Linked DNA regions of Homo sapiens. The protein of the gene in region 1 purifies or fractionates together with the protein of each later gene. This does not show direct contact. Each region holds a gene or a part of one and is shown on either strand. Other genes may lie near its edges. The genes, in order: G6PD, RDX, PDS5A, PGAM1, PGD, RPE and UNC13D.

Region 1 (3,500 bases):
CAGGCGCGCACCACCACATCCAGCTAATTTTTTGTATTTTAGTAGAAACGGGGTCTCACCATGTTGGCCAGGATGGTCTCAATCTCCTGACCTCGTGATCCACCCACCTCAACCTCCCAAAGTGCTAGGATTACAGGCATGAGCCACCGCGCCTGGCCTGTATTTTTAGTAGAGACGGGGTTTCACCATGTTTGCCAGGCTGGTCTCGAACTCCTGACCTCAGGTGATCCACCCTCCTCAGCCTCCCAAAGTGCTGGGGTTACAGGCATGAGCCACCACGCCCAGACTATTAGTTTTTACCATGTTTTATTGAAATATATGTCATGGGCCGGCCACGGTGGCTCACGCCTGTAATGCCAGCACTTTGGGAGGCCACGGCAGGTGGATCACAAGGTCAGGAGTTTGAGGCCAGCCTGGCCAACATGGCGAAACCCCATCTCTAGTAAAAATACAAAAATTAGCCGGGCGTGGTGGCAGGTGCCTGGAGTCCCAGCTACTCAGGAGGCTGAGGCAGGAGAATGGCTTGAACCCAGGAGGTGGAGATTTCAGTGAGCCAAGATCACGCCACTGCACTCCAGCCTGGCCGACAGAGTGAGACTCCGTCTCAAAAAAAAAAAGAAATACATGTCATGAAGAACACAGATGGTGCAGGTCTAGCTTGTTGATGACTTTTCACAAACTCAGCACAGCCACAGAAACTGCTCCTAGATCAAGAAACAGAATATGCTCTGCACCCAGGAAGCCCCCTCACCTGGGGCTCTCACAGTCACTGGCCCTCAAAGGGTCATTTCTGACCCACTCCCCACCCTCCGCTCCATTGTTGGTTTTCTCGCCGTCTTTTGTTGGTGCGCAAATCTTAACTGTACAATTGGCTGTACACCCTCATCACAATAAAGGCCATCGTCATCTCCCCAGAAAGTTCCTGGGTACCCATTCCCAGCCAATCTGCCCTGCTCCAGGCAACCGCTGATCTGATTTCTGTCACAATGGGTTGCATCTCTGATGCTGAGATTTCCCAGTGTTGCTGAGTAGTATCCGTTGTATGAATGCACAGTTTGCCGGGTCACATGTTAATTCAAGTGTTTGACTTGTTTCCAGTTTGGGGCCGCTATGAACCAAGGCTGCTGTGACCATTCGTGTGCAGGTCTTTGTGTGGACTTGCACTTTCATTTCTCTTGGGGTGGAACGGCCAGGTCACAGGATAGGTGTGTGTTTCACTTGATCAGAGGGAGCACCCGCACCACCTCACAGCTCAACTTCAGCCATTTTCATTTTCTTGCCTTACTGCACTTTTCTTGTTCCTGATTGCTTAAAGGGATGATTAATATTTCAGCATTTCCTATAAGTGTGATATTTGTAGTATTTGTAAGGATGATGGTTTGGGGGTTTTTTTGTTCTTTGTTTTTTGGTGGTGGTTTTTTTTTTTGAGACGACGTCTAGCTCTGTTGCTCAGGCTACAGTGGTGTGATCTCGGCTCACTCCAGTCTCTCCCTCCTGGTTCAAGCGATTCTCCTGCCTCAGTCTCCTGAATAGCTGGGATTACAGGCATACACCACCATGTTCAGCTAAGTTTTGTATTTTTAGTAGAAATGGGGTTTCACCATGTTGGTCAGGCTGGTCTCAAACTCCTGACCTCAAGCGATTCCCCGCCTCGGCCTCCCAAAGTGCTGGGATTACAGGCTTGAGCCACCACGCCCAGCCAGAATGGTGTTTTATAGATGCCCTTTATCAAGTTAGTGAAGTTCCCTTGCATTCCCCCTCTGCTAAGAGTTTTAGCGTGAATAGGTGATTTCTGAAACACTTGATCTACATCTGTTGGGTTGAGCAAGATTGCTAGATTTAAAAAATCAAAACATAGCAGTAGGCAGAGAGTTCTTAGAGGTTTTTTTTAATCTCTTAATATGGTGAATTTCAATGATTTTTTTCTGTTAATATCAAACCAACTTTTTATTTACAGATGTATTTATTCTGTAAATAAAAAACCTACCGTTTTTAACATTGCAGGATTTGGTTTGCTGATGTTTTCTTCTTTTTTTTTAAAGAGACAGGGTCAGTGGGTCGTCGTGGCTCACGCCTGTAATCCCAACACTTTGGGAGGCTGAGGCGGGCAGATCACTTGAGCCCAGGAGTTCAAGAGCAGCCTGGACAACATGGGGAAACCCTGTCTCTACAAAAAATACAAAAAATTAGCTGGGTGTGTTGGCATGTACCTGTAGTCCCAGCTACTCCAGAGGCTGAGGTGGGAGGATTGCTTGAGCCCAGAGGCAGAGGTTGCAGTGAACTGAGATCGTGCCACTGCACTCCAGCCTAGGTGACAGAGTGAGACCATGTCTTTAAAAAAAAAAAAAAAAAAAAACCTCCTGATTTCAAGCAATCTTCCTCCCACCTTGGTCTCCCAAAGTGCTGGGGTGTGTGAGTTGTGCCCGGCCTGCTGATATTTCGTGTGGGATTTCTGCATCTGCATGTGTGTGTGAATGAGGCGTATGGGTTTTCCCATGTGCCTTTCTCATCAGGTTTCCGTACCAAGGCTCTGTAGGCCCCATAAGGTGGCTTGGGAAGTGTTCCCCTTTCTTCCTTCTGCAGGAAGAGTTTGCTTCAGGCTGGAATTCTCTTGTGCTTGCATTTTGGTAGAACCCACTGGCAACACTCTCTATGCCAGGGGGTTGTTTCTGTAGGAAGATTTGTGGCCACTGTCCCCTCTCAGGTCCATTGCTCTGTTTTTTGTTTGTTTGAGACGGAGTTTCGCTTTTGTAGCCCAGGCTGGAGTGCAGTGGCTTGATCTTGGCTCACTGCAACCTCCGCCTCCCAGGTTCAAGCGATTCTCCTGCCTCAGCCTCCTGAGTAGCTGGGATTACAGGCATGGGCCACCATGCCCAGCCAATTTTGTATTTTTAGTAGAAACGGTTTCTCCATGTTGGTCAGGCTGGTCTTGAACTCCCGAACTCAGGTAATCCATCCGCCTCGGCCTTCCAAAGTGCTGGGATTATAGGCTTGAGCCACCGCGTCCAGCTGTTTAGTTGTTTTTTTGTTTTTTGTTTTTTGAGACGGAGTTTCACTCTTGTCGCCCAGGCTGGGGTGCAATGGTGCAATCTTGGCTCACTGCAACCTCCATCTCCCGGGTTCAAGTGATTCTCCTACCTCAGCCTTCCGAGTAGCTGGGACTACAGACACCCGCCACCACGCCTGGCTAATTTTTTGTATTTTTGGTAGAGGCGGGGTTTCACCGTGTCAGCCAGGATGGTCTCGATCTCCTGACCTCTTGATCCGCCTGCCTCGGCCTCTCAAAGTGCTGGGATTACAGGAGTAAGCCACTGTGCCCGGCCTATGCCCTTTTAAAAAAGCAACCATGCCAGGGGGTTGTCTGTTTCTATTCGTCTTTTTCAAACACCAATTTCCAGCTTTGTTCATCTTTTCTTTGGGTTAGCTTTTAATTTTATTAATTTTACTTGTCATTATTTCCTATTTTCTTCCTGGTAATTTGGCTTGCAGTTCTATCTTTT
Region 2 (3,500 bases), on another chromosome or scaffold:
CTAAACTGGAGTACTTTTGAGAAAAAGGGGGTATTGTTCATAATTACACCAGGACAACAGTGTAACAGGACTTTTCCAGGTAAACCAAGATAATATGATCACCCAAATAATTGGTGATGTTAGATATTTCAGGTTGTATCATATCAGAAGACACTTAATATCTAGTTAACTCACCATTAGTATTTTTTAGTGATCATTGGATTTGAGTAACGACAGTCTCATTCCTCCGTTATTCGGTTACATTTTCCCCTTGTGGCTCAAATAAAATCTATTGGGTGTGAGATTCTTAGGCATTATATGAATATCTATTTCTCATCAACTATTTGCACAACAGTTTTAGCAAACAATTGATAATCCTTGCCAGAATTAATAGTTCTTTTTTTGCATGTATGCTTGTTTTTCTTTTAATCTGTCACTTTGAAGCTCACAGAGTAATTCTAATAGGGTTTGCATAATAATGTTTTTGATTTTCTCTTTTACCTGTTGACATTCTTTTATGAAAATAGAGGTTTCATAAATAGGGCCTATTTTCATTACCTTGAAATACAGTTTCTATTAAAAAGGGAGTATAACTTGATTGTTTTGATTATTAATTTTTGAAGTAAGTTGCTCATAAACGTATTTTTAATGTTCAGGCTTTTGCAGCCCAGGAAGACTTGGAAAAGACCAAAGAAGAGTTAAAAACTGTGATGTCTGCCCCCCCTCCACCTCCACCACCACCAGTCATTCCTCCAACAGAAAACGAACATGATGAACACGATGAGAATAATGCTGAAGCTAGTGCTGAATTATCAAATGAAGGGGTAATGAACCATAGAAGCGAGGAAGAACGTGTAACCGAAACACAGAAAAATGAGCGTGTTAAGAAGCAACTTCAGGTATTTAAAATTTGCAGTTGTATGTGCATTTGAAATATAGTTTGCATTTTCCCCATCTTAGACAAACTTAGTTAAAAAGAATATAGAAGTTTTAATACTGGCTGCCCTTGTGATTGGTTTGTGGGTGTTTGGCCTATAGTCATGTTATTTCATTTCTTCCGTTGTGTGAACCCATTAGCAAATACCTGTTAGCTTTGTATAATCAGACCTTAACTAGTGAGTTATTTAATTACAGCTTGACCCATTTTAAAAGGTAGAAAGTATTCTAATGTCATGTTGAAAAACGTGAATTTAGTTTTTGATCAGTAATATGTACATTGAGGGCCAGGCGCAGTGGCTCACACCTGTAATCCCAGCACTCTGGGAGGCCGAGGCAGGTGGACTGCCTGAGGCCAGGAGTTCAAGACCAGCCTGGCCAACATGGTGAAACTCTGCCTCTACCAAAAATACAAAAATTAGCCGGGTATGGTGGTATGAGCCTGTAATCCCAGTTACTTGGGAGGCTGAGGTATTGCTTGAACCTGGGAGGTGGAGGTTGCAGTGAGCCGAGATCATGCCACTGCACTTCAGCCTGGACAATAGTAAGTGACTCTGTCTCAAAAAAATAAAATAAAATAAAATGTACATTGGAAAGAATGATAGTTAATATACTATGTTTAAGACATTACATAATCTTAATTATTTGTTGAGATTTTATATTGGCAAAAGGTCAGTATATTACATGGACATAACTAGGTCAAAGTAGAGGATTTTAATATTATGAGCTTTCTTTTTTCCCAATAAGTTATCTAATATTTTAATTGTTAAAATCTTTAAATATTAAAAGAAAATGAGGTGATAGTTACAATAAATGTATTAAGACTTTTGGAGAAGGCTTCCCTTGAGGTATAGATTTTAAATCTCATAGTAATATTAGTCTGTAATGGCTACATTGAACTTTTTAGCCATTTCAAGTATTAGATTAGAAAGTTAAGGAAATTTAGAATAATGTACAAAATACCATGGTTGATAAATGTGGAAAGGCCATGTGTATTCCTCCCTTACCACTGCCACCACTATTACTAAAACAAACTTATACCTAAAGAAAAAGGTTTCACAGTGGAAATGATTTGGTATATGTATTTTTGCATCTTAAAGCCATTTTCATAAATTTTTTTAAATCTAAGAAAAAAATAATAGTTGTACTTTTTATTTTTTAAATAGGCATTAAGTTCAGAATTAGCCCAAGCCAGAGATGAAACCAAGAAAACACAAAATGATGTTCTTCATGCTGAGAATGTTAAAGCAGGCCGTGATAAGTACAAGACTCTGCGACAGATTCGACAAGGCAATACAAAGCAGCGTATCGATGAGTTTGAAGCAATGTGAGAGCTGTTATTTTGCATATATGTTCTTCATAAGCTGAACCACCAACAGAGAAAAGCAGGCCTTTGCAGATATGATGGAATGCATCCCACCTTGCCAAAGCACTTACACCAGTTTGACTGTGCTAGCTAAAAGACAAATTTAAGGGGAGCTCTTCAACATTAAGGCAGTATGATATCATGCTTGGTTTTCTTTTTTCTTTTGGTCCAGGGAATGGAGAATGGTGTTCCATTGCCTCTTTTCACATTTTTTTTCTTTTTCTTTTTTTTTTCTGTTGAAGATTAACACTAATTATCACGTCTGACAAATGTGTATGTGTGGTTTCAGTTCTGTGTACATTTTAAAGGATAATGGTGAACATTTTAATGGGTTTCCCTTGCCCTTTCCATATTTAACCTATTTCCACATTCTCTCTCACTCACATTTTCTCAGTGTGCCCTTCTCTTATCTGCCATGTCCATAGCCATAATTCCACCATCATACAGATCAGGCAGTGTTTAAAATGATGGTAGGTAGCACAGTGGACAGTCTTTGATCATCATGTAGAATATGGCTATGAATCAGGAAAGAGATTAGAACATTTAATAATGTATGTACAGCTGGTGCTTAGTTTTTTTTTAATCTAAATTTAATTACCTTATTGGATATTTGATATTTGGTTATTTAATCACAGTCATCTTTAACAGCTTACACTGATTGGTGTTTTATCTCCTGTGATCCTTTGATGGCTTTTTTTGCCTACCATTTCACAGAGGTTTAGACAGCAGTAGTAGCTCCCTAGGAGAGTTTACTGATGAAACAGCCTCTGCAAGATTTTAAAAGTTTTGTTCTTTTATAGACTGATTTAGAAAAACAAATGATTAGTTAAAAAAAGAAAATATACATTTGTTGGTAACTAATGTTATTTTTTAAAACCTGGACCTTTTCTGGAAGGGCAGCATATAAAAACATCAGTCCCGAGGAGGGGACAACAATACTACCTCACTACTACATCTGTGATGACTGGTTGTTCAAACACAATGGAGTGTGTAAGGTATATGTTTTATAATTCATAACCATAGCCTCGATCATCAAGAAATACTTTCGAAATTTCATTTTCCTTCAGAATATCTTAAGAGTGCTAAATTTTTAACTGCCTTTTTGTCGAGTCAAACTGTGGGATTCTGATTTGTATTAAAATTGTAAGCTCCTCACTGGTATACTATCATCCTGGAGGGGTGTTGTATGGCTGAGCAAGAGAGAGAGAGAATGAGAGAG
Region 3 (3,500 bases), on another chromosome or scaffold:
CCTGTAATCCCAGCTACTAGGGAGGCTGAGGCCGGAGAATTGCTTGAACCCAGGAGGCAGATGTTGCAGTGAGCCGAGATTATCCCATTGTACTGCAGCCTGGGCAACAGAGTGAGACTTGTCTCAAAAAAAAAAAAAAAAAAAAGAAAGAAAAGAAAAAAAGACTGTCATTTTGGCAGAAATTCTATTACGATAGTGTTGTATCATGGTTACTAATCCCTTTCCTTGCTTAAGGTTTTGATGTTTGTTTACATTTCAAAATATCTGACAAAGAGTGTTTAGAGATTAGTAATTCTCAGAGGTCATCTGGGCACCTGGAAATATGGATGGGATTTCTGAGAGAAGAAAATCTGTGTTCCTGGAGAGAGAAAAGTTTAGAATAAACACAATAATGTAAATTTGGCATCTTGAATCTGCATCATTTTTGATACTTCATTTTTCAAAATAGTCTATAGTGCTTCATGTATATGCCTTAGCCTTTTTAATAAGGCCTTCATGATTTGATCTGTGTCTGTGGAATGCTCCAGCTTCCTTATGCTCCACACACATGCCTTGTGCTCCAAGCGTATACATGTTTTTCAGTTTGTTTTATGTCCCTTGCACTTTGAGATTTTCTTTCCTTGTACCAAAACTTTCTAGCTACCTGTATTTAGTACATCTTTCAATCCCTGTATTACTTATTAATCTTTCTAAACCTCTCAAATATTTTCTCTCATAAGAAGGCTTATATTTACCATTTGTACTAAATTGTTTTAAATCCTAATAAATATATTTCCCGGTATTTAAACTTTTAGGTAGATGTAGAAGAATGGTGTATATACAGCATGCAACAAGAAAGGTTGTAAAGCTGAATAATTTCCAGTATTGTTATGTAATGTGTGTTTTCATATTCATAACTTTACAGAGCTCTCAACGAAATGTGGAAGTGTCAGAACATGCTTCGGAGCCATGTACGCGAACTATTGGATTTGCACAAGCAGCCTACAGTAGGTTCATGATTTGTTTAAATTCATAGTTTATTATAGTCACTGTTCAGATTTTCTGTAGTTCTACGTAATGAAGCAGGGAAAAAGTATCTCAGTTGTTTTATTTTCCAAATGTCAGTTAAATATAATTTCTGTAGTTGTCCAAGCTAAATTTCCATTTAAAATAAATATAACAAACTCTTATTTTCTAGTGTGAGCAAAGAAATGGTGTTTTCTAGTTTATATAAAGTTTTCAGACACTAAGAGTTTATAGTTAATCAATTTTCAAATAATTAGAATTAAATTTTGAGATAAAATTACATTAAACATCATATTTCTTTTTCACTGCATGATTCATGGTCTCTCAGTGTAGAGTGAATATCAGATATCAATCCTATAAATATGCCAATGGCAAACTAAAAAAGAAATGCCATTAAATTTTTGCAAGGTTGGGGAAAAAAACTTTACATTTTTACGTGTGTTCACTAGAATAGGTGTTCTTAACCAGGGGACCATATAAACAGACCCCTCAAGGACACATGGATGCTGGAACAGGGGCGGGCAAACTTTTTTTTTTTTTTTTTTTTTTTTTTTTAATACACAGGATCTTACTCTGTTGCCCAGGCTGTCGCATAGTGGCATGATCACAGCTCACTGCAGCCTCGATGTCACTGGGCTGAGGTGATCCTCCCACCTCAGCCTTCTGAATAGCTGGGACTACGGGTGTGCTCCACCATACCCAGCTAGGTTTTGTATGTTTTTTGTAGAGGTGAGTTTTCACCATGTTTCCCAGGCTGGTCTCAAAATCTTGGGCTCATGCAGTCTGCCTGCCTAGGCCTCCCAAATTGCTAGGATTACAGGTGTGAGATACTGCACCTAGCCTAGCAAACTTTGAAAATAAATCAACAGATAGCAAAAACATATTTTGCAAGGCATAGAGTCTGTGGTCAGATATTCAACCCTGCCTTTGCAAAATTAGTCATACACGATAAATAAATGAATGGACATGACTATATTCCATCGAAACTACTAACAAAAACAGGTAGCTCATGGGGGCATAGTTTTCTAACTTTTGAACTAAATTATTCAAATTTAGTATAAATGAAAACTAATAAGTAATGTTTTATGGGATACAGGAAAGGGAAGTACGTTTTAGAAAGGAGGTTTTCCTGAAGGTATTTAAGTAACGGGCCACAAAGTAGCTAACAGAACTCTATTGCAGAAAAAAAAGTTTCTTCTCTATATTTTTAGTTAATTTTTTGTGGCATGTAGTTTCATAGTAATTCTGATATGATAAGTTTATATGTTGATTGCTTCATTGATCTTTTTTCAATCTTCTGGCAATGTAACTTTCCTGTGAAAGTTATATACTTGTGGGTTTTTAAGTACCTTCCTCCCAACATCTCCTTTCCTTCTATTTGTCTTAATAGTTGCTACTATGTAATTCTTTGTTGTTAGTTTAGCGTATATATGTGGTAAAACCATTTTCCATTGAGCAGACTGTGATGAACTTTATTTTTTAACGTCATGAAAAATGTACAGTAATGAGTATTGATTTTTGTTAGGGAAATTTGTTAACACATATGACTAGTTGTTCTTTTGTTTCTGTTTTAAATTTCAGTCAGAGGCTAACTGTTCTGCCATGTTTGGAAAACTGATGACCATAGCAAGTGAGTATGTTTATTTACTCACTAAACATGTAGTAAACGTAAATGCAGACAAAGTATTTACCCAGTGGGACTACTGATTTAATGTTAAGTAAAAGAAAATAATCTTTATCTTAATTTTGTTTCTAAGAACCAGCTAGGCTGATTTTCTTTTAGTGGCTCCGCAATATTTTGATGGCACCTGTTTTTAGCTTAGTAGAATAGTTTTTTTTTTTTCCTTCTCTAATATTGATTCTCTTTTAATTTTATAGAGAATTTGCCTGACCCCGGGAAAGCACAAGATTTTGTGAAGAAATTTAACCAGGTTCTCGGCGATGATGAGAAACTTCGGTCTCAGTTGGAGTTATTAATTAGCCCAACCTGTTCTTGCAAACAAGCAGATATTTGTGTGGTTAGTAAATCATACTTCACACTTTTTCTCTAGCTTTACTTACAGAAATATGTATTTTATTAAAGCCTGTTTTACATACAGTGATTTGTGTAAATGTAACAATATTGTGAGCTCTGAATTACTTTGGAGTATATCTATTGTCAAGTTAATTCTCTATTTACCATTCACTCTCAGCCACATTCCAGGAAAATAACTAAAGAACTAAGCCAGGGAGATTGGTCTTAGGAATTTTACAAGATAAAGTACTTTGAACTTAGTAGACATTCATTGAGTAATGATAAGTATTTTCTGAATGCTTGTGTACATGTGCATTTTCTTCTTTCATGTATTAGAATGGAAATAATCGTCAATAAATTAGTAGTAGTAACATTGCCATATATCTGGTTTCATTTACAGATAAAGTAAATTCCTATCTAGACTTTTGTCTTCATTCTTCTCTTGAACTCATTTAAAACCAATATTCTTAAAGCTATCAGG
Region 4 (2,377 bases), on another chromosome or scaffold:
CCAGGAGTTTGAGACAGCCTGGGCAACATAGTAAGACTGCATCTCTACAAAATTTTAAAAGGCCAAGCACAGTGGTTCATGCCTGTACTATCAGCACCTTGGGAGGCCAGGAGTTCAAAACCAGCCTGAGCAACAAAGCAAGACCTTGTCTGTACAAAAGAAAAATGAAAAATTAGCTTGATGTGGTGATGCTCATCTGTAGTCCCAGCTACTCAGGAGGCTGAGGCGGGAGATCGCTTGAGCCCAGCAGTTTGAGGTTATAGTGAGGTATGATTGTGCCACTACATTCTAGCCTGGGTGAGAGAGTAAGACCTTGTCTCTTAAAAAAAAAAAAAAGGAAAACAAATATATATAAAAGAAAAAATTCTCCTTAGTCACAACCAGGCACAACTTTACACATGAATCTCAATTTGCATCTTCATCCCCGAGGGCCTAGAGGCCCACGTGTGCTGATTTTTGGTTGGATGGGCTGTACAGGGTATTTGAGATGTGTAGTCTTGCTTCACTGTGGGCTTCTAGATCCCACTTTGGTAGAGATATCTGGCCATATACCTTGCTGTAGTTTGTTGGTGGTCTATCTTGTATACCTTTTCTTGCTTTTCAGTTTAATGGCTGAGAAATAAGTATGGTGGGGGCCATTCCCTGGGTTCAGAACTACTATAAAGATCAGAAAGGGTGTCTTATTTTAATTTCTGTCAAAGTCCTTTATCACCTGGAGGACAAAGTAAACCTGGAGGGGTGATGTGGATTTATGTCTTGTGTGGCTGATGATGGTGGATGTTTTCAGGTCTCTCTGAAGAGGCTATCATGGAGCTGAACCTGCCGACTGGTATTCCCATTGTCTATGAATTGGACAAGAACTTGAAGCCTATCAAGCCCATGCAGTTTCTGGGGGATGAAGAGACGGTGCGCAAAGCCATGGAAGCTGTGGCTGCCCAGGGCAAGGCCAAGAAGTGAAGGCCGGCGGGGAGGATACTGTCCCCAGGAGCACCCTCCCTGCCCGTCTTGTCCCTCTGCCCCTCCCACCTGCACATGTCACACTGACCACATCTGTAGACATCTTGAGTTGTAGCTGCAGACGGGGACCAGTGGCTCCCATTTTCATTTTAGCCATTTTGTCGCCTGCACCCACTCCCTTCATACAATCTAGTCAGAATAGCAGTTCTAGAGCACAGGTTCTCAGTCTAAGCTATGGAAAAGCTCCCCTTATCCAACAGAGTTTAAAAGTAGTGACTTGGGTTTTTGCGAGTGCTTTGTTTACTAAGGACTTTGGGGAGGAACCATGCTAAGCCATGACCAGTGAGGAGAAGCAACAGAGCCTGTCTGTCCCCATGAGCGGAGTCTGTCCTCTGCTCTTCTGCAGTCAGGTCACTGCCTACTGCCTGGGGGCTCTAGTCATTCCAGTGGAAGACGAATGTAACCTGCGTGGTGATGTGACAACTGTTTCCTCCCTGACCCCAGAGGATCTGGCTCTAGGTTGGGATCAATCCTGAATTTCGTTATGTGTTAATTTACTTTTATTAAAAAAGTATAGTATATATAATACAAAACAATAACCCTTCTGGGGTTTCTTGTGGCGGTTGAAATAGTCCCACATGTGGTCATCAGAAAATAAGCCATTCCTCATACCAATATAGGATCAGCTCCTTGACCTCTGAGGGGCAGGAGTGCTTCCTGGTGTGTGTATTAGAATCCCTTCCTGCCTTGTTTCATGGCAGTGAAATGCCTCTTGGTCCTGTCCAAGTGTATCTTTCACTGATTTCTGAATCATGTTCTAGTTGCTTGACCCTGCCACATGGGTCCAGTGTTCATCTGAGCATAACTGTACTAAATCCTTTTTCCATATCAGTATAATAAAGGAGTGATGTGCAATAGCTTCTTGTGTGATGTGGAAGACCTTATCTGAGGAAACTTTAGCATTTAACTTGAAATGTCTCTCACTGCCCTAGTCCTTGTGTGGCAGTTTGTTTTAGGACATCCAGTCACAACTTTACACGGTTGGTCAAAAAATGACGCATCTCCTTGGGGTTTTCACGTCAGCCTGGTGAGCTGAGGTGGTGGTGGGAGGCCCTCCTGGCCAAGCCCTCCATTCACGTTGCCCCCTGCAGCTCTTGCTTGGTGCTCCCCTGATTGGAAAGTCACATTCTGAACTCCATTATATCCTCTTTAGAGTAAGTAAAGTCTGCTTTTTGTTTTTTCTTTTTGAGACAGCCTCGCTCCGTCGCCCATGCTTGAGTGCAGTGGCATGATCTCAGCTCACTGCAGCCTCCCCCTCCTGTGTTCAAGCAAGCCTCCCACCTCAGCCTCCTGAGTAGCTGGGACCACAGGCATGTGCCACCATGCTTGCTTAATTTCTGTATTTTTAGTAGAGACGGGG
Region 5 (3,500 bases), on another chromosome or scaffold:
GCATGGTGGCTCACGCCTGTAATCCCAGCACTTTGGGAGACTGAGATGGGAGGATCACTTGAGGTCAGGAGTTCAAGACCAGCCTGGCCAACATGGTGAAACTCTCTACTAATAATACAAAAATTAGCCGGGCATGGTGGAGGGCACCTCTAATCCCAGCTACATGGGAGGCTGAGGCACAAGAATCACTTGAACCTGGGAGGCAGAGGTTGCAATGAGCCGAGATCTCACCACTGCACTCCATCATGGGTGACAGAGCGAGACTCGGTCTCAGTAAAAAAGAAAAAATGATTCTTTTTTTGAGACGGAGTCTTGCTCTGTTGCCCAGGTTGGAGTGCAGAGTGCAGTGGCGCGATCTCTGCTCACTGCAAGCCCCACCTGCCAGGTTCACGCCATTCTCTCGCCTCAGCCTCCCAAGTGGCTGGAACTACAGGCACCCACGACCACGCCCAGCTAATTTTTTGTATTTTTAGTAGAGACGGGGTTTCACCGTGTTAGCCAGGATGGTCTTGATCCCCTGATCTCGTGATCTGCCTGCCTCAGCCTCCCAAAGTGCTGGGATTACAGGTGTGAGCCACTGCGCCCAGCCAAAAATAATTTTTTTAATTACCTTTCTGGTGAATGAGTCTGGGGATTCTCTTCAGTGTGTTATTAATAAAACACAGAAGTAGAGAGGCCTTTCTGCTTCTCAGAAGTTTAAACAGCTGTGTGTGCAGTGGCTTGCACCTGTAGTGCCAGCTATTCAGGAGACTGAGGTGAGAGAACTGCTTGAGCCCAGGTGTTCAAGGCCAGCCTGGACAACATAGCAAGACCCTGTTTCTTAAGAAAAAAAAAAAAGGTTTGAAAATACTTATCTCGAAGCACCTGCACAGTGAGCAGTTAGAAAGGCAACCAGCAGACAATGCACGTAAAAGTATTTGACATATGGAGTGCTCCAGTTGTTTCCATCAGTTCTCTTTCCTCATACTGTGGTGGCAGAAGTACAAATGGCACCTTTACCAGAAGGACACTGTAAAAGTTCAGTGAAGCTCTGCGGTTTCCGGTGTGGCTGTCTTCATCCCTAATCCTAAATGTTAACTTTGCAACCCTGTAAGATTTCATGTCTGTACCAGAAACTTTTTGTGAGGAAGCCTTGACTGGCCATTAGGGAGCAGAACAGTGAGGGAAAGTCTCAAGAGTAATATATCCGCGTGCTGAGCTGTGGAAGGAATGAACAGCGGCCTTTCTCTGAATGGTAATGTAGCTCTCAAAAACGCTGCCTGGTTCTTAATCCAAATGTCCAGAACCATTCTGTGCCTGGCAGCACACATCCAGACAAATGAAAGAGGGTCTCTTCACTTGCTAAAAGCCATTATAAGGAGAAATAAAGAAAAGGGAAAAAATTAAAAGAGGATCTCTAAAGGAACTTTCGTATTGCCTGCTGTTTGCAATCATACTGTCTGCTGCTGCTGCAGTAGAAATTTCTGAGCCGGGTGCGATGGCTTATGCCTGTAATTTCAGTGACTCAAGAGGCTGAGGTGGGAGGAGTGCTTGATCCGAGGAGTTCAAGACCAGCCACATCAACATAGGGAGACCCCATCTCTGCACCACCAACAAAAAATTAGCCAGGCATGGTGGCTCACGCCTATGGTCCCAGCACTTTGGGAAGCTGAGGTGTGAGGATTGCTTGAGGCCAGGAGCTCAACACCAGCCTGGGCAACATAGCAAGATCCTGTCCCTACAAAAAAAAGTTTTTAATTAGCTGGGTGTGATGGCACACACCTGTAGCCCCACCTACTTGGGAGGCTGAGGCAGGAGGATCACCTAAGTCCAGGAGTTTGAGGCTGCAGGGAGCCGTGATTGTGCCACTGCACTCCAGCCTGGGCAACAGAGTGAGACCCTGTCTCTAAGAAGACATTTCTTCTGGTGCTTTGGTGATGCTTCTGCTCAGCCTTTCTGTCTGTAGTCTCAGTCCGATAGTCCAGTCTGCTTTGAGGGCCCACCAGGACCTGGAGGAGGGGCCAGTTTCAGTCAAGGGTCTGCAGTTGACCTTGAGAACTTAGCACATTCATTATCTTTTTGTGGGCACTTCCACCTCCCATTAGAAAGAAAAAGATGGGCCCAGTGCGGTGGTGGCTTATGCCTGTAATCCCAGCACATTGGGTATCCACGGTGGGTGGATCACTTGAGCTCAGGAGTTCGAGACCAATCTGGGCAACATGGCAAAACCCCATCTCTACAAAATCCAAAAAAATGAGCTGGGTGTGGTGTCACATACCTGTAGTCTTAGCCACTTAGGGGGCCGAGGCAGGAAGATTACTTGAACCTGGGAGGTTGAGGAGGCTGCAGTGAGCTGAGATCACACCACTGCATTCCAGCCTGGGTGACAACGTGAGACCCTGTCTCAAAAAAAAAAAAAAAGAAAGGAAAAGATAGGGGTTGGTGTCTATGGGTATGTTGGTGTCTATGGGTATGGGCTCTCAGCCCGTCTCTTCTCATTAACTGAACCACACTGTTTCTTTACACAGGCCCCACATCAAGACCATCTTCCAAGGCATTGCTGCAAAAGTGGGAACTGGAGAACCCTGCTGTGACTGGGCAAGTTCTGGGCTACTCTTTAAAGCCAATTGGCAACATGGGCGTGTCTAAGTGATGAAGTGCGTGGAGAAAGGCCACCGTGGTCTCCCAGGGGTTAGCTTGGTGACATAAACGTCTCGATCTTTGATTGCTAGAATAGCCAACGCCTAGAATGCATGCCTGCTGTTCACATCTTTGTATCTTAGCTGACTGTTCATAGCCTTGAGGTTGATATTAAAAGCAGCCTTCTATAATTCATCTAAAAGATGAATTCTTTAAAAAGGAATAGGATGAAGTGAAATAAGATTTTTTCGAGCCATATTATTTCATGGCCAAAGGAAAGAATGTCAGAATCAAAAGTGGCGTTTGCTTGCATGGGTGAAAGGTGGAAGATTGAAGGTACTGTTGCTGTGTCAACATTCCATGAACGTGGAAAATTCCCCATCCTGTAGTGTGGGATTCAGGCATTCTGTGCTTGAACAAAGTAACCTGTGGACTTGCACCCTCACTGAATATGAAGGAGGCCTAACCTAGTTCATAGTACAGTGGTGCGATCTTGGCTCACCGCAACCTCCACCTCCCAGGCTCAAGCAATCCTCCTGCCTCAGCCTCCTGAGTAGCTGGGACTGCAGGTGCATGCCACCACGCCTAGCTAATATTTGTATTTTTTGTAGAGACGGGGTTTCACCATGTCACCCAGGCTGGTCTCAAACTCCTGGACTCTCAAGTCATCTGCCTGCCTTGGCCTCACAAAGTGCTGAGGTTACAGGCATGCGCCACCATGCCCGGCCTCGTGTTGCTGTTAAAGTAAACTTTATCTCATATTGTAGTTCAGCCATGCTGTGGATGGAAAAAAGCATTAGGCTCAGGAGACCTGAGTGGCAGTTCTGGCTTTCCATAAACTTAACTGTGACATCAGGCAAGCCACGTCCCTTCATGGACTT
Region 6 (3,500 bases), on another chromosome or scaffold:
AAAAAACAGTTCAAAGACTTGCTAGCACTGGGCCCTCAGTCTTACCAGGTGACATGCGCTGGAGCTGACAGGGGCAGCCTCACCTTTAGTCATGTGGGGTGTACTTCATTTGGCCCCTTTCCCTATCTGCTCTGTTTTGCTCTTTGATGTTACCTAACTCTCAGCAGCATTGAGTTTGTGATTCCTGATTCACAGGAAGATTGTGTTCTAGTTACAGTCCTGTACCTTTTATAGCAACTCTAATCCTCCTCTTACCATCTTTGCCTTGTTGGGAGATAGGGTAAATGGCTTGATCTGTCTGCAGTAGATTGTGTTAGAATTACGTAAGTAAAGCTTAGGAGTGATGATGGAACATGAGAGAGAAAATTGTATCCTTGTATTACAAAAAATTATAGTGTAATTCCAGTAAGTCCCTGGAAGAAAGGGATACCTTTTTATTTTATTTTATTTCTTTCACACTTAACTAACTCCAGGAAATAACTTAAAGGAAAAAGAGGCAGAATAAGATAATGATGAAGCAGACTTTTTAGTGAAGTTTCTCTCTGTTAAGTGAAATAATTAAGTGTTTTCCAAGCTGGTCTGTTAACTCCCTCTGGCATTTGTTCAAAATTCAGATTCCCGGTCCTCTTTGGAGTCAGTAGGCTGAGGTAGAGACTGTAAATACATTAGAACTGCTCTCATGGTTACTGTTTGGCAAATTTGGGACACCCTGACTTCGTGCTTAGGATTGTAGCCCCTTTTTGTTATGGCTTAGCGTAGCCTTTGGGTTTTTTTTTGAGACTACTGATGCATTCTTGTTCTTCCAATATACTTCGTGAACCTAGTGCATTGAATTGATTTTCAAAAGCACAAATTAAGTCACGTAACTTTGGGGTTAGTATTTTTATACGTTTTGTTTAGGTTTTCCCAAAAAAGTAAAAGTGTATTTTTTTTGGTTCTTTTATTTACTCGGGAGGTGGTTATTATACTTTTATTTTCATAATAAATGAAACCTACTGTTAAGACAACGAAACTATTTCCCAGACTACACAGCAAATTAAAAGAACAGTATGTGAAATTCAGATCTTTAATTCCAGAATTGTAAAACATTCAATAGGCCTTACTGCCTGCTTCTGTGACCCTTATTTCAAGTTCTAAGTAAACACATGCATCTTATCCACAGCCCTGACAATCATTGCTCAGGCAAATGTTAGAATCACTTTTTTAATGATAGAAATTAAACCTCCAAAGACCAAGGTGTTATTGAGTGAAAGTGTCTGTTCCCATCCACCTTATGTGTCCCTCTCAGATGTGTCCTGAATCCTTACCTCTCTCTCTTGAATCTCTTCTCCGCTAGACTTTTTCCCCTTGTTTGTTTCGTTTGTTGTCATTATAGGGACAGATGAGCATAGTAGTTAAGAGTCTGGACTTTGTAGCCATAGTGCCTATGTTTAATTCCTGCCTCCAGCACTTACTGGTTGTGTGACCTTGGGCCTCTGTTCCTCATCTGTAAAATACAGTTAATAAAAGTACCTACCTCATAGGGTTGTTGTGAGGTTTTAATGATTTAATATACAGAAAGTCTTTAGAACTGTGTGTGGCCCACATATAAGTTTGGTTTTTATTAGCACTCATTCTACCTGTCATCTAACTGTGAGACCTTAAACATAGTTTGTATTTTAACTCCCCTCCCACACACCTAATCATTTAACAGATCCAATCAGTTTTGCCTGTCTTGTCATTCTTAGTGTTCCTTGCCACTTACCAAGTGGCAATTGCAGTCACCTACCCTCTTGTAATTTATTTCCCATCCTATCTTATTTATTAATATTTCTCACTTTAAGATCTTACTTCATATTTACAGCAGGACAAAAGTCCAGACACTGAGCTTGGCATTTGACACCTTTAATGTGATACTACCAACCTCCCATCTTTTTTTTACACTAGCCAAAGTTGGTCAATACCACTCTCCACGTCTTTGACTGTAACTTGCTTATTTCTGCTTTTGCTTCATTTTCAGCCTTTGTTTCTTTTCCCATCTTTATAAATCCTATTTTGTAAATCTCATGAACTTCTTTCTTAACGTTCTCTAATACTTGCTCTTATTTTATGTATGTTTTATCTATAATCACGTTACCTGCCTGTTATTGTATAGCTTTTCTTGTAATCCTCATATAGGATAATACCTGCTGCTTTAACAAAGCCCAGATTTCAGTAGCTTAGCATTCTAGTTTCTCATTCATAAAAGAGTTCAGTGTGAGTGTTATTCCATTCTGTGGCTCTTCCATTCTGTAAGGGCTTTGTTGGCAGAAGGGTAAAGTGGCAATAGGAAAGGAATTCTCCTTAACCTTCTGAGCTCTGCAGTGACACACTACTTGCACTCACAGTCTGGTGGTGAGAGTCACATGAGCCACTTGGATGTAAAGGGAACTGGGAACTGGGATGTAAAGTCACATGGGCCACTTGAATATAAAGGGAACTGGGAATGAAAAGGTTTGACTGAGTTGACATCCCACTGACAACTATACGATAGCAGTAGGGTTGTGAATTCTGGTGAGTCATTCATTAGCTGTCAATCTCTGTCATAGGAACTGTAGCGTATTTCCTTTACAAAACAGTATTCTGAAGCACCTAGTATGGTACTTGCATATAGGGGATTTTTTTTGTTTGTTTTTGTTTTTTTTTTTTTTTTTTTTTGAGATGGAGTCTTGCTCTGTTGCCCAGGCTGGAGTGCAGTGGCGTGATCTCAGCTCACTACAGTCTCCACCTCCTGGGTACAAGCGATCTTCCTGCCTCAGCCTCCTGAGTATCTGGGATTATAGACGCACGCCACCACACCCAGCTAATTTTTATATTTTTAGTAGAGACGGAGTTTCACCATGTTGGCCAGGCTGGTCTTGAACACCTGCCCTTGTGATCTGCCACCTTGTTCTCCCAAAGTGCTGGGATTACAGGTGTGAGCCACCATGCCCGGCCCCGGTTTTGTTAAAGATTTAAGTGAACTAGTGATAGAACAAAAAGATTAACTGGAGTAGGGTAAAGGATAAGTACCGTGGGTCTGGTAGACTTGATTTGTTTTTGTTTTTGTTTTCGTTTTTGAGGTAAGTCTCGCTTTGTCGCCCAGGCTGGAATACAGTGGCACGATCTTGGCTCACTGCACCCTCCACCTCCCAGATTCAAACGATTCTCCTGCCTCAGCCTGCCTAGAAGCTGGGATTACAGGTGCATGCCACCACTCCCAGCTAATTTTTGTATTTTTAGTAGAGACAGGGTTTCACTATGTTGGCCAGGCTGGTCTTGAACTCCTGACCTCAAGTGATCTGCCCGCCTCAGCCTCCCAAAGTATTGGGGTTACAGGCGTGAGCCACTGTGCCTGGCTGGTAGACTTAATTTGAATCCACTTCCACAAATTATTAACTGAGTTACTTAAGGATTTTATTTATCTTGTGCTCTTCAAAGGGGATAATAATAGCATCTACTTTGTAAGGCTGTCGTGAAGATGAAATGAAGTAAATTACGAT
Region 7 (3,500 bases), on another chromosome or scaffold:
TCTCCCCCATCCTCTGCCCTCCCACGGGACCTCGTTTGTGTGATATCCCCCCAAACCATCTGAAAGGAAGTTCTCACTGATGCTTGCCACATGTGCACGAAGGCTCAGGTTCATAGATCCTATTTTTCTTTTCTTTTCTTTTTTTTTTTTGAGCTGGAGTTTCCCTCTTGTCGCCCAGGCTGGAGTGCCATGGCACAATCTCAGCTCACTGCAACTTCTGCCTCCCAGGTTCAAGTGATTCTCTTGTCTCAGCCTCCCAAGTAGCTGGGACTACAGGTGCCTGCCATCACACCTGGCTAAATTTTGTATTTTTGGTAGAGATGGGGTTTCACTATGTTGGCCAGGCTGGTCTCAAACTCCTGACCTCAGGTGATCCACCCGCCTCGGCCTCCAAAAGTCCTGGGATTACAGGTGTGAGCCACTGTGCCCAGCTAATCCAATTTTTCAAAAACAGCAAGAAATCCTGAAGTTTTAAAATCACAAAGATCTCAATCTGGGCAATTTGAAAAGCATCTATGGAAACAAAGAAAAAAAATCCTGGCTGGTCACAGTGACTCATGTCTGTAATCCCAGAACTTTGGGAGGCCGAGGCGGGTGGATCACTTGAGGTCAGGTGTTCGAGACCAGCCTGGCCAACATGGTGAAACCCCATCTCTACTAAAAATAAAAAATTTAGCTGGGCATGGTGGTACATGCCTGTAGTCCCAGCTACTTGGGAGGCTGAGGCTGGAGAATCGCTTGAACCCAGGAGGCGCAGGTTGCAGTGAGCCGAGATCACGCCACTGCACTCCAGCCTGGGTGACGGAGTGAGACTACATCTCAAAAAAAAAAACACAAAACAAAAACAATCCTGCATGTCCTGTTGAGCCACTAGTTTTCAGCCTGTACTGGTGGATGGGAGGCGATTCCCCCCACCTGAGGCCGGGTGAACAGGGGAAGGCAATTTCCTCCTCCCTGTCCAGCTGAGGGCTTCCTGTCCCCTGCAGGCAGTGGCTGGCCTACAGCCGCCTCTACCAGAGCCTGGAGTTCCCCAGCAGCTGCCTCCTGCACCCCATCACCAGCATCGAGTACCAGTGGATCCAGGGTCGGCTCAAGGCAGAACAGGTAGGCATGCAGTGGCAAGGGGCACTGAGCAGGCAGGGCTCAGGGAAGGGGCAGGGGAGCAGCAGCAGCTGTCTAGGCCCCTAAAGCATCTCCTGGCTCTTCAGCAGGAGGAGCTGGCCGCCTCATTCAGCTCCCTGCTGACCTACGGCCTCTCCCTCATCCGGAGGTTCCGCTCTGTCTTCCCCCTCTCTGTCTCGGACTCCCCAGCCCGGCTGCAGTCTCTTCTCAGGTCAGTGGCTGCCTTCCTCTTCCTCGGTGGGGTCAGGGATGAGGGAGCAGCTGGGGTGCCTGCAGGAGTGGGAGAATTGTTGGAGGAGTGAGTGCAGTGTGGGGCAGCAGGCACTTTCGACACAGCTCTTTCCATCTTGCAGGGTCCTGGTACAGATGTGCAAGATGAAGGCCTTTGGAGAACTGTGCCCCAACACCGCCCCATTGCCCCAGCTGGTGACTGAGGCCCTGCAGGTATGGTACTCGCGCTGGGGATGGGGGAGACCAGCGCCTGGGCCTGGCAGTCCCTCCCTGCTCACTGCCTCTTTGTCGACAGACTGGCACCACTGAATGGTTCCACCTGAAGCAGCAGCACCATCAACCCATGGTGCAGGTGAGGGGCTGGGCAAGGGGGAGGGCAGGGGGTCACGGGGGGTGGTGCCTGCCTCTGGCAGCCCTGCCCAGCCCACCTCTGTCTCTGCAGGGCATCCCGGAGGCAGGCAAGGCCTTGCTGGGCCTGGTACAGGATGTCATTGGCGACCTGCACCAGTGCCAGCGCACATGGGACAAGATCTTCCACAAGTGAGCAGATAGCCAGGTCGGGAGGTAGTGGGGCATTGCCTCAGAGCCGGAACCATGGGGACCCTGGTGTATGCCACTGGGTGACACCTGCTGCCTTTCCTCCAGTACCCTCAAGATCCACCTCTTCTCCATGGCTTTCCGGGAGCTGCAGTGGCTGGTGAGTCCCTCCCCCGTCTCTAGGGCATGCCCTCCAACAGAGCTGTGGGCCCCGCCCTCCACACCTTTCCTTTGCAGGTGGCCAAGCGGGTGCAGGACCACACGACGGTTGTGGGTGATGTAGTGTCCCCAGAGATGGGCGAGAGTCTGTTCCAGCTCTACATCAGCCTCAAGGAGCTCTGCCAGCTGCGCATGAGCTCCTCAGAGAGGTGGGCAGCAGGCCAATTGTGGGCGGCTGCAGGGGCACAGGGGAGGGGAGGGTGGACGAGGCCCCAGGGTCCATGGTGGCCCCAGCCTTCCCGACGCTGAGCCCCGGCAATCCCCAGGGATGGAGTCCTGGCCCTGGATAATTTCCACCGCTGGTTCCAGCCGGCCATCCCCTCCTGGCTGCAGAAGACGTACAACGAGGCCCTGGCGCGGGTGCAGCGCGCTGTGCAGATGGATGAGGTGGGGGCGTGGCCAGGGCAGGGGGCGGGGCCCCGGTTTGGGGGTGAGGCTTGGGTTCTGCCTGGACCTCCAAAGCGTAGTAAAAGCCAGTAACCCGCTCTGAACATCCCTTTTGGGTGCACTTGAGTCCAGTTTTGTGCAAAACGCTGCCTCTGGATATCCTTGGGGCTGTGGCTTCACTTTGCCTGAGATCCTGCAGCCTGGGGGTCTGGGCGGAGCCGTGCTTGTCTCTTGTGAAGCTCCCTGCCCAGCTCTGTGCCTGGTGATGGTAGCTGCTCTATGAATGAAGGAAGGAGGGAAGGGGGTGGATTTGGCAGTATCCTGAGTCCTCCTTTCTTCCCCCAGCTGGTGCCCCTGGGTGAACTGACCAAGCACAGCACATCAGCGGTGGATCTATCCACCTGCTTTGCCCAGATCAGCCACACTGCCCGGCAGCTGGACTGGCCAGACCCAGAGGAGGCCTTCATGATTACCGTCAAGTTTGTGGAGGTGCGGCATCTTCCACGTGTCCTTCCCCCTCTTTCTAGAACAGCCACACTACCACCCACCGTTTCTCCCGTGCTCTCACCCAGGCAGCCTCCCAAGGCCTGTATTCTAAATCCCCCAAGTCGCTGAAATTCCCATGCCCTCCCACCTGCCCTTCCTGGATGCCCCACCCATGGATCAGTTCCCTCTGTCCAACCCCACCCTAGGACACCTGTCGCCTGGCCCTGGTGTACTGCAGCCTTATAAAGGCCCGGGCCCGCGAGCTCTCTTCAGGCCAGAAGGACCAAGGCCAGGCAGCCAACATGGTAAGGCCAGAGCTGGGGCTGGGAGTCTAGCTGGGTGTGGGGACCAGCCTGGGCACAGTTCAGGAAGCTCTGCATCTCTGTCCCAGCTGTGTGTGGTGGTGAATGACATGGAGCAGCTGCGGCTGGTGATCGGCAAGTTGCCCGCCCAGCTGGCATGGGAGGCCCTGGAGCAGCGGGTAGGGGCCGTGCTGGAGCAGGGGCAGCTGCAGAACA

The links.
Region 2: the proteins of G6PD (region 1) and RDX fractionate together in Homo sapiens (co-fractionation; one large-scale study listed by BioGRID). This does not show direct contact.
Region 3: the proteins of G6PD (region 1) and PDS5A fractionate together in Homo sapiens (co-fractionation; one large-scale study listed by BioGRID). This does not show direct contact.
Region 4: the proteins of G6PD (region 1) and PGAM1 fractionate together in Homo sapiens (co-fractionation; one large-scale study listed by BioGRID). This does not show direct contact.
Region 5: the proteins of G6PD (region 1) and PGD fractionate together in Homo sapiens (co-fractionation; one large-scale study listed by BioGRID). This does not show direct contact.
Region 6: the proteins of G6PD (region 1) and RPE fractionate together in Homo sapiens (co-fractionation; one large-scale study listed by BioGRID). This does not show direct contact.
Region 7: the proteins of G6PD (region 1) and UNC13D fractionate together in Homo sapiens (co-fractionation; one large-scale study listed by BioGRID). This does not show direct contact.

What each region holds. Positions count from the first base shown.
Region 1 is NC_000023.11:154,536,847-154,540,346, reverse strand, and holds part of G6PD (glucose-6-phosphate 1-dehydrogenase), read left to right. Parts: intron 1-3,500. UniProt on the Homo sapiens protein: Catalyzes the rate-limiting step of the oxidative pentose-phosphate pathway, which represents a route for the dissimilation of carbohydrates besides glycolysis.
Region 2 is NC_000011.10:110,230,615-110,234,114, reverse strand, and holds part of RDX (radixin), read left to right. Parts: intron 1-635; coding exon 636-878; intron 879-2,081; coding exon 2,082-2,246; 3' UTR 2,247-3,500. UniProt on the Homo sapiens protein: Probably plays a crucial role in the binding of the barbed end of actin filaments to the plasma membrane.
Region 3 is NC_000004.12:39,897,912-39,901,411, reverse strand, and holds part of PDS5A (sister chromatid cohesion protein PDS5 homolog A), read left to right. Parts: intron 1-904; coding exon 905-986; intron 987-2,586; coding exon 2,587-2,635; intron 2,636-2,883; coding exon 2,884-3,023; coding exon of another isoform or gene 3,024-3,056; exon of another isoform or gene 3,057-3,398; intron 3,399-3,500. UniProt on the Homo sapiens protein: Probable regulator of sister chromatid cohesion in mitosis which may stabilize cohesin complex association with chromatin. May couple sister chromatid cohesion during mitosis to DNA replication.
Region 4 is NC_000010.11:97,431,568-97,433,944, forward strand, and holds the end of PGAM1 (phosphoglycerate mutase 1), read left to right. Parts: intron 1-787; coding exon 788-957; 3' UTR 958-1,877; downstream 1,878-2,377. UniProt on the Homo sapiens protein: Catalyzes the interconversion of 2-phosphoglycerate and 3-phosphoglyceratea crucial step in glycolysis, by using 2,3-bisphosphoglycerate. Also catalyzes the interconversion of (2R)-2,3-bisphosphoglycerate and (2R)-3-phospho-glyceroyl phosphate.
Region 5 is NC_000001.11:10,405,564-10,409,063, forward strand, and holds part of PGD (6-phosphogluconate dehydrogenase, decarboxylating), read left to right. Parts: intron 1-2,507; coding exon 2,508-2,577; intron 2,578-3,500. UniProt on the Homo sapiens protein: Catalyzes the oxidative decarboxylation of 6-phosphogluconate to ribulose 5-phosphate and CO(2), with concomitant reduction of NADP to NADPH.
Region 6 is NC_000002.12:210,005,638-210,009,137, forward strand, and holds part of RPE (ribulose-phosphate 3-epimerase), read left to right. Parts: intron 1-3,500. UniProt on the Homo sapiens protein: Catalyzes the reversible epimerization of D-ribulose 5-phosphate to D-xylulose 5-phosphate.
Region 7 is NC_000017.11:75,834,405-75,837,904, reverse strand, and holds part of UNC13D (protein unc-13 homolog D), read left to right. Parts: intron 1-986; coding exon 987-1,104; intron 1,105-1,208; coding exon 1,209-1,333; intron 1,334-1,475; coding exon 1,476-1,566; intron 1,567-1,648; coding exon 1,649-1,705; intron 1,706-1,795; coding exon 1,796-1,893; intron 1,894-1,998; coding exon 1,999-2,050; intron 2,051-2,127; coding exon 2,128-2,258; intron 2,259-2,375; coding exon 2,376-2,496; intron 2,497-2,841; coding exon 2,842-2,985; intron 2,986-3,188; coding exon 3,189-3,287; intron 3,288-3,373; coding exon 3,374-3,500. UniProt on the Homo sapiens protein: Plays a role in cytotoxic granule exocytosis in lymphocytes. Required for both granule maturation and granule docking and priming at the immunologic synapse.